Linked DNA regions of Homo sapiens: region 1 is linked to region 2. The links come from fine-mapping of genetic effects on gene expression. A gene starts in region 2. The other region holds a variant in brackets. All regions are shown on one strand. Distances are between the middles of the regions. Region 1 overlaps IL12RB2 (interleukin 12 receptor subunit beta 2). Region 2 holds the start of SERBP1 (SERPINE1 mRNA binding protein 1).

Evidence for each region. PIP is the estimated chance that this variant, and not a neighbour inherited with it, causes the effect. A credible set is the group of variants that fine-mapping cannot tell apart.
Region 1: its variant is the best candidate, but not a certain one, in a credible set for the expression of SERBP1 in sun-exposed skin (GTEx, PIP 0.66).

Annotation. Positions count from the first base shown.
Region 1 is chr1:67,380,557-67,384,556 of GRCh38, reverse strand. The region is part of intron 14 of IL12RB2 (interleukin 12 receptor subunit beta 2); the gene reads right to left. Among named protein-coding and RNA genes, the nearest start is that of SERBP1, 48 kb to the left of the region's middle. The variant TG/G (reference allele first, on the strand shown) is at 2,075.
Region 2 is chr1:67,428,634-67,433,152 of GRCh38, reverse strand. It overlaps SERBP1 (SERPINE1 mRNA binding protein 1), which reads left to right and starts at 2,751. Exons shown (of 8, transcript NM_001018069.2): 1 at 2,751-3,165. The coding sequence starts at 2,853. RefSeq lists enhancers at 2,100-2,279, 2,310-2,389, 2,600-2,869, 2,307-2,942, 3,578-4,214.

The DNA of each region.
Region 1 (4,000 bases), 48 kb after region 2:
GAGCCAAATGTTAATTACCAAGACAATGGGGAAAATATCTCCTGAGCATGTTAGGAACCTTCATGACAGCCCCTCCCATCACAGGCCTGGAGGCCTAGGAGGGAAAAATGGTTTTCAGGGCTGGGTCCAGGGCCCCCACTTCTGTATGCAGCCTTGGGACTTGGTGCTCTGCATCCTAGCCACTCCAGCTGTGGCTAAAAGGGACCAACATACAGCTCAGGCCGTTGCTTCATAGGGTGCAAGCCCCAGGCCTTGGCAGCTTCCATGTGGTTTTGGGCCTGTGGGTGTGCAGAGGTCAAGAGTTCAGGTTTGGAGAACTTTGCCTAGATTTCACAGGATGTATGGAAGTGCCTGGATGCCCAGGCAGAAGTTTGCTGCAGGGGCGGAGCCCTTATGGAGAACCTCTGCTAGAGCAGTGTGGAAGAGAAATGTGGGGTGCAAGCCCCTACACAGGGTCCCCACTGGGCACTGCCTAGTGGAACTGTGAAAAGAGGGCCACTGTCCTCCAGACCCTAGAATGGTAGATCCACTGACAGCTTGCACCATGCACCTGGAAAAGCTGCAGACACTCAATGCCAGCTGTGAAGGCAGTTGGGAGGGGGCTGTACCCTGCAAAGCCACAGAGGTGGAGCTGCCCAAGGCTGTGGGAGCCCACCTCTTGCATCAGCATGACCTAATGTGAGACATGGAGTTAACCTATTTATGCCTGAGGTTGCAATTTTTTGAATTTTTGCATGAGTGAAAAATCTGACCTTGGCAATGACCTTGAGCAGTAGGATATAAACAACTCCCACATGCTTAGCATTCCAATAATGGAACACTAGGCTTAAGTGGATCTAGGCAGGAGATCATTTTGGAGCTTTAAGATTTAATGATTGCCCTACTGGATTTTGGACTTGCATGGGGCCTATAGCTCCTTTGTTTTGGCCAATTTCTCCCATTTGGAAGGGGTGTATTTTCCCAATGCCTGTACCCCCTTTATATCTAGGAAGTAACTAGCTTGTTTTTGATTTTATAGGCTCATAGGTGGAAAAGACTTGCTTTGTCTCAGATGAGACTTTGGACTTGGACTTTTGGGCTATTACTGGAATGGCCTAAGACTTCAGGGGACTGTTCAAAATGCATGATTGTGTTTTGAAATGTGAGGACATGAGGTTTGGGAGGGGTCAGGAGTGGGATGATATGGTTTGGCTGTGTCCTCACCCAAATCTTATCTTGAATTGTAGTTCCCATGATCCCCACATGTGGTGTGAGGGACTTGCGGGGAGGTAATTCAATCATGGGGGCAGTTATCTTCATGCTGTTCTCATGATAGTGAGTGAGTTCTCACAAGAATTGATGGTTTTCTAAGGGGCCTTTCCCCCACTTGGCTCTCATTCTTCTCTCTCCTGGCACCTTGTGAAGGACATGTTTGCTTTCCCTTCTGCCACGATTATAAGTTTCCTTAGGCTTCCCCAGCCCTGTGGAACTGTGAATCAATTAAACCTCTTCCCTTTATAAATTATCCAGTCTCAGGTATGTCCTTATAGCAGCGTGAGAACAGACTAATTCACATGGGATATGTATGAAAACAGGGGTATATGCAATGTCCACAGCAGTGTAGCAGAGAACAGCATGGAAAACTGGCTCACAAGTAGCAGAGGAAGGTTTTGCAAAAGGCACAATGTCAAAAGTTTAGAGTTGATTAGCTGGGCATGGTGGCAGGAGCCTATAGTCTCAACTACTTGTGAGGCTGAGGCATGAGAATCACTTGGGCCCAGGATTTTGAGGCTGCAGTGAGCTATGATCATGCCACTATACTCCAGCCTGGACAATAGAGTGAGACCCTGTCTCAAAAAAAAAAAAAAATGTAGAGTTGGAGGATGAATAGGAGCCAGCTAAATGGATAAGCTAACAAAGGAAGACCAGACCAGAAAAAAAAAACTATGCAAAGGCATGGAAGGAGGGAACAGCCAGTACTTTCAGGCGACTGCAGAAAGTCTGGTCTTGCTCCATAATGAATGCTGAAGTGTGTGGCAAAGGATCAAACTAGATGGGTAAACAGGACCATGTGTACCTGGCAAGTATGGAGTTT[TG/G]AGTTCTAGCTTGAAGGCCCCTGGGGAACCACTGATGAGTTACAACAAGAGAAGTAATGCCAGCATCTGCAGTCTTGCAGAAAGACTCCTCTTCTGATTGAATGAAAAACAGGCTGGGAGGGAGAGTGAGCAGGAGGAGCTAGAGGCCAGAGACCTGTTAGGACCCATGAGAAGTGTCAACAGGGCTGAATAGGGAAGTTAATGGAGGTAACCTTTTTTCTACCCCATACAATCAGGAGGATCTGGCCTTCCTTTCTTTTTTAATTGAGATGGGGTCTTGCTATGTTGCCCAGGCAGGTGTGGAACTCCTGTGTTCAATCAATCCTCCCACCTTGGCCTCCCAAAGTGCTGAGATTATAGGTGGGAGCCACGGCACTTGGCCAAATCTCACGTTTCTTCAGCATCTGCTTTCCTTTCTGGGCAGATGGAACAAGTTTGGAGTAAAACCAGTAGCAAGATGCTGAGTCCTTTTTTGTTTTTATTTTTTTTTATTTTTGAGACAGAGTCTCGCTCTGTCACCCAGGCTGGAGTGCAGTGGTGCGATCTCAGCTCCCTGCAACCTCTGCCTCCTGGGTTCAAGTGATTCTCTTGCCTCAGCCTCCCAAGTAGCTGGGATTACAGGCATGTACCACCGCTCCCACCTAATTTTTGTCTGAGTCCTTAATCCACATTAATCGAGCAAGTTAACTTTCTTTCTTTTTTTTTTTTTTTTTTTTGAAACATAGTCTCACTCTGTCGCCCAGGCTGGAGGGCAGTGGTGCCATCTCGGCTCACTGCAAGCTCCGCCTCCTGGGTTTATGCCATTCTCCTGCCTCAGCCTCCCGAGTAGCCAGGACTACAGGCGCCCGCCACCATGCCCGGCTAATTTTTTTGTATTTTTTTAGTAGAGACGGGGTTTCACTGTGTTAGCCAGGATGGTCTCGATCTCCTGACCTCATGATCCGCCCTCCTCGGCCTCCCAAAGTCCTGGGATTACAGGCACGAGCTACCGTGCCCAGCTGCAAGTTAACTTTCATGGGAGTGCTGGGGAGATAAGAAGAAGTCTTGTCAATTTCCCAGTGGAGAGTTTCCTGGCATAGAACAACAAAGTCTCTTGAATGATCAACTTGATGCTTCATGTCACAAAGCAAGAACAGCTTGTTTTATGCTTAGAGCAGATGCAAATGAGCATTGCTAGAGAGAACAGTGTAACTTAGCTGGTGGAGGGAAGCCCATGCTAGCTGGGTCACTTATTCATCAGACTCAAATTTAATTTAAGCAACTCAAATCTGAGTTTGATTTGTAGTTCTGCCACTTACCACTTCCATGACCTTGGGTAATCTTTCTGTACCTTAGTCCCCTCACTTTAAAAAAGGCATGATAATCCTTCATTTTTAAATTCATTTCATATTGAGTGTCTGGTAGGATGGGGTAGGTATAACCATGTAATTTTGGTAAGGAAATATTAGCAAAAGTATGTGTTGTAGGTTGAACTGGGTGATCCTCAAATTTGTATGTTGAAGTCCTAAACCCCCAGCCTCAGAATGTGACCTCATTTGAAATTAGGATCATTGCATATATAATTAAGATGAAGTTATACTGGAGTAGAGTGGGCCCCTAATCCAATATGACTGGTGTCCTTATAAGAAGGAGACAATTTGGACACATGGAGAATGCCAGATGAAAGCAGAGACCTACAAGCCAAGTAATATCAATGACTGCCTGCAAATTACTGGAAAAGAGGAGAGAGGCCTGGAATAGATTCTCTCTCATAGCCCTCCGAAAGAACCAACCCTGCTGACACCTTGATTTTGGACTTCTAGCCTCTAGAACTGTGAGACAATAGATTTCTGTTGATTAGGCCACTCAGTTTGTGGTGCTTCGTTACAGCAGCCCCAGCAAATTAATGTAGTATACAAAGCGCTTAACAGAATGACTGTTGCATA
Region 2 (4,519 bases):
AAGGCAGGAAGGAAGGAGATACAATATTGTTTCTCCATTTTGTTAACATTAGGCAACTCTATCAGATATTTAATCATGGTTTTCAGCATTTATTGCTAGAAAATCCTTGTAGATAAGACTGTGAAGTTTCATGAGTATTTTTCAGAGAAGAAGATGTGATTCAAATATTGCTACAGAGAGATGACATTTTAGGCCACATGTCTAGTGATATCGTCTGACACTTGTTGCTTTCATAAATCATTTCTTTAATTTGAATAATAGTGTCTAGGAAATTTCTCTTCCCTTGAGGTTTATTTGGCTGATGTTCTCCTATTGAGAGTAGCAAGAACTTTTAGACATTTTAATATTTAATATTAAGAAATTAATATTTCAATTTTGTAGAATAAAGGAAACATTAGTGAAAATAACTAGTTATAAAATAACGATTGAGAGATGTAAAAGACCACCTTGAGCTTTATTTGTATACTTTAAAAATGGGCTTCAAAACTTTTTGGAAATATAGAAGATTCTCCCCTTTTCTCCAAATGCTTATTCATAACATTTTTATGTAATCTTAATAGGTAAATTCTCTGAAGAGCATAAATGAACCTCATAAATTCATAGCCAGAAAATTCCTCTATGTGTAGCTTATTTTCAAATATTCTTATTGTAATAATGCTTGGTGGTTACGAAGCTCTGTTTGAGCAAACCAGAAATCTGTAATGGAGGAGAAAAATGAATAACAACAGGCCTGCCCCACCCCCCAGATTGTGGCAGGAGTAGTTAACTTACTTAAGCTCTTTGTTTTCATTTTCCTAATCTTAAAACAGGAGCAATAACTTTTTTTTTGCGGGGGGGAGGTATGGAGTAATAACTTTCTTATAGAGTTGATGTAAGGTTTAAAGGAGATCACGTATGTAAAGTGCACCAAGCACACACTAAAACATCACGTTTTAGTATGAATATTGTTACTGTGGCCGTGGCCAGAAAGAGTTAAGAAGAGGAGCTTTCACAGATGTCTCAAAGATGCAGGCAGTCTCAGAGACGCAACAGCCCGTGAAGAGAGAAAATCTGTCAAAATGTGGAGATCTTCTACATTGCACTTGAGCTATTTCAAAAAGGTGGGAAGAGTATGGTCAAAAGCTCCTTGTCTTGGTAGGTGCCACAGAACCAGAGCCTGTGGAAGGGGGGATGAGATAGGGGGTGTGTTTGAGGTTGGGCGTTGTGGGCAGGGTGCAGGACTGAGGCAGCAGGGAAATAAGTGAGGAATAGGGGAGGATTGAGAAACAAGAAAACCAGGAGGCTTGCTGCCCCATGTATGTAATATGACTCGTGTCTTCTATTTTCCCTGCTAAGGAATTGATTTAAAATCTGCTCGGAAATTGATGATTACATTCCGCCATGTTACATATCCTGACACGCAACAATGTTTAAATTATATCGGAAATTTAAAAATTGGACTGCTTTCTATCAGGGCAGTCTGAATTAAAGAGCTGATGTCCAGTCTCCTAGTGGAGATAGAATACTGGGCTAATGCCTGTCACTAGCACTTACAGAGGTGTGAATTTGGTAAATCATTTCATCTCTGAAGTGGTTTCAACATTTGTGAAAAGAGGCAAACTATTTGCCTAACAAAATGTTGAGTTCAAGGTTATTCATAGCTCCTACCAAATAAGCGATGCATTTGCTACTTTGTGTTAATGGAAAAGGACTTAAAAATTATGATATACTTAAACCCGGTGCTACCAAATGTGCTTAAATACGCATTCAAATTGTATTCTTTTAATGAATTTTAATATTCTCAACTAGTATCAATGCTTTGTCATTATTAAGTGTTGACTTCAATATTTCCCTCCCCTCACCGCAACTCCTAGCACACATGCACTCGAAATGTTCTCAAATGATATGTATTGAGCGCATGTGACTAACAACACAGCCACCTAAGCCCTGACTTGCCGGACACGAACGGACGATTAATTGGAATAATTGTAACAGGGTTTCTATAAACAGTGCTTCCTGGAGGCTTGCCCCGCGTCTAGCGCTGCACCGTCAGGAGTTAACCACTCCTACGACACCCGCCGCCACACGGTGAGAAGCCCGGGAAAGACGCGCCACGCTCCCATGTGATAGTTTCACTTGTCTTTTTGGTTAGTTCTGCTACCCTAGTTCATGTCCCCGCGAGAGGAAACGTATTCCCCCTCACATTAGACAGAAGAGCCTCGATTCACCGTGGAGGCTGACGGAGGGCCACTCCAGCAACTGAGCAGCTCGGACTTGGCACAGGCAGGGTCCAGCCTACCCGCGGCCGGCGCGGCGCCTCAGCAACACCCCCTCCCCCGGAAGTTTGTGCGTCTCAGATGTAAGGTCTGGGAGTCACCTTGACCCCCCTGGAGCGGTGGGGAAAGTTAGCCCTGAGCCCGAGGGGGCGTGAGTGAAACCAAAGAGCACTTTCGCGAGTCAGTTACGCCGTCACGGTTTTTTGGTTTCAAGGTAGCTGAAGACCTAGAGAGTTTAAGGGTGGCCAGAGCAGGTGGCAGGACTCCGCCCACCACCACGCTTCCCTTCCTTCAGCCCGCACGCTTCACTCCCCTCATGGGGTCTCGCCTCTCAGGCGCGCGCGAAGAGTTGTCGCGCGGTGCGTCCTGGGAATTGTAGTCCCGACGCGGAGAGTCGCCTCAGGAGAAATGACTCTGGCCTACATACCCCACAGTGCCTTGCGGCGCAGGCCGCTCCCGGATGTGTGCCTGGCGCCGGAAGAGAAGACGGCCCCCCTCTCTCGGCCCGGCCATCTTGTGGGAAGAGCTGAAGCAGGCGCTCTTGGCTCGGCGCGGCCCGCTGCAATCCGTGGAGGAACGCGCCGCCGAGCCACCATCATGCCTGGGCACTTACAGGAAGGCTTCGGCTGCGTGGTCACCAACCGATTCGACCAGTTATTTGACGACGAATCGGACCCCTTCGAGGTGCTGAAGGCAGCAGAGAACAAGAAAAAAGAAGCCGGCGGGGGCGGCGTTGGGGGCCCTGGGGCCAAGAGCGCAGCTCAGGCCGCGGCCCAGACCAACTCCAACGCGGCAGGCAAACAGCTGCGCAAGGAGTCCCAGAAAGACCGCAAGAACCCGCTGCCCCCCAGCGTTGGCGTGGTTGACAAGAAAGAGGAGACGCAGCCGCCCGTGGCGCTTAAGAAAGAAGGTAAAGCAGGGGCAGAATGTGGGGGAGACTGGGATGGAGGGAAGGAGCGAGGGGGCTGCCGGCTGCCACTTGTTTCTGGAGCTCCGAGGGTCCGCGGGAGACTTTGCCGCCTATATCCTCACGTTTCTTCACGCGACAAAAGTCCGGTCCTGCGAAGGTGCCAGGAGCGTGGTAGCCCCAAGTTCAAGCCACCGCCGGCGAGGTTCTCGGAGCCATCCCCTTCCCGCCTCAGGTTGTGAGCAGAGGAGCGTGGTCGGAGATGAGCTGCTCCTCGAGCGCGCTCGAGGTCCTGGGAGGCTGTTGCCTTCCCGCCGGATTCCTTGGCGGGTGAGCGCATGGACTGAGGTGCGGGGAAGCCGGCCCCTCACCGAAGCTTTCCGTAGTTACGGAGGAGCTTGGGGGTCCATCGCTGCTTACTGCGCAGAGCTGCTCCTTTGAGGTGCTGTTGTTTCAGGCTCCTGTCCTGCCGTCTTGTCCCACGACGGCGCGGAGTATCCCCGCTGAAAAGCAGGGGGTCGTTCCAGGCCATCAGACGTGTGGAGTAAGCTGCAGGTTGGGGTGCCGCATGTCCTTTATTTGTTTCTCTTCCACCTCTCAACTGTTAGGACTTTCTCATAACTTGCTGGGGTGAGTTGAGCCGTTGGGAAATGGAGGAGTTTGGCCACACTCGATTAACCAGGAGCGGGAATTATGAATGAAGACTGGTGATTGCAGGACATCCCGAGGAACGTCCTCGAGTCACGATCCTCTCTCTCGACTCCCCAAACTGAATCTTTCACGTGGTGGGGTCTGGGCCTCGTGGGTGAAGTGAGTGCAGAGGCTGTCACAGCGTTAGTCGCAGCAGAGCTCTTTAGAGTTCGCAGTTTTTTTTTTCCACCACATGTGCGTGAAGCATGGTCAGAGTTTCACTGGCGGTTAATAGTTGTTTCTAGGGCACTGTGAGTTTCACAGGATTGTCTTGATTTTTGCATTCGCTTTACCAGTTTGTTGCGGATGAAAAAAAAGAGCAAGCAGTTTGGAGATAAGAACGTGCATGATCAATAGCAAGCAGGTGTTGGACCTAAGGTCTGAATCTTTAAAGCTGCATTTATATGTTGAAAGTTGAAATTACCCCTTCCTGCCACGTGCTTCTCTGAAAGGAGTTGTTTCTCTTTAGCTTTAGTTGAATTCTGTAACAGTGAACTAATTTTAAAAATCAAAACAATTTTCTCGTGGTAGGATTTGTTTTAGGAGGGTTTTTTTTTTTTTTTTTGAGGACTTTTGTGAGGCTCGGAATGAAGAACCTCGGTCCTAGGTGGTGAATAAAAGAAAATAATTAATTCTTGTGGTAAAATTATAGGTTGAGGAAAAATAC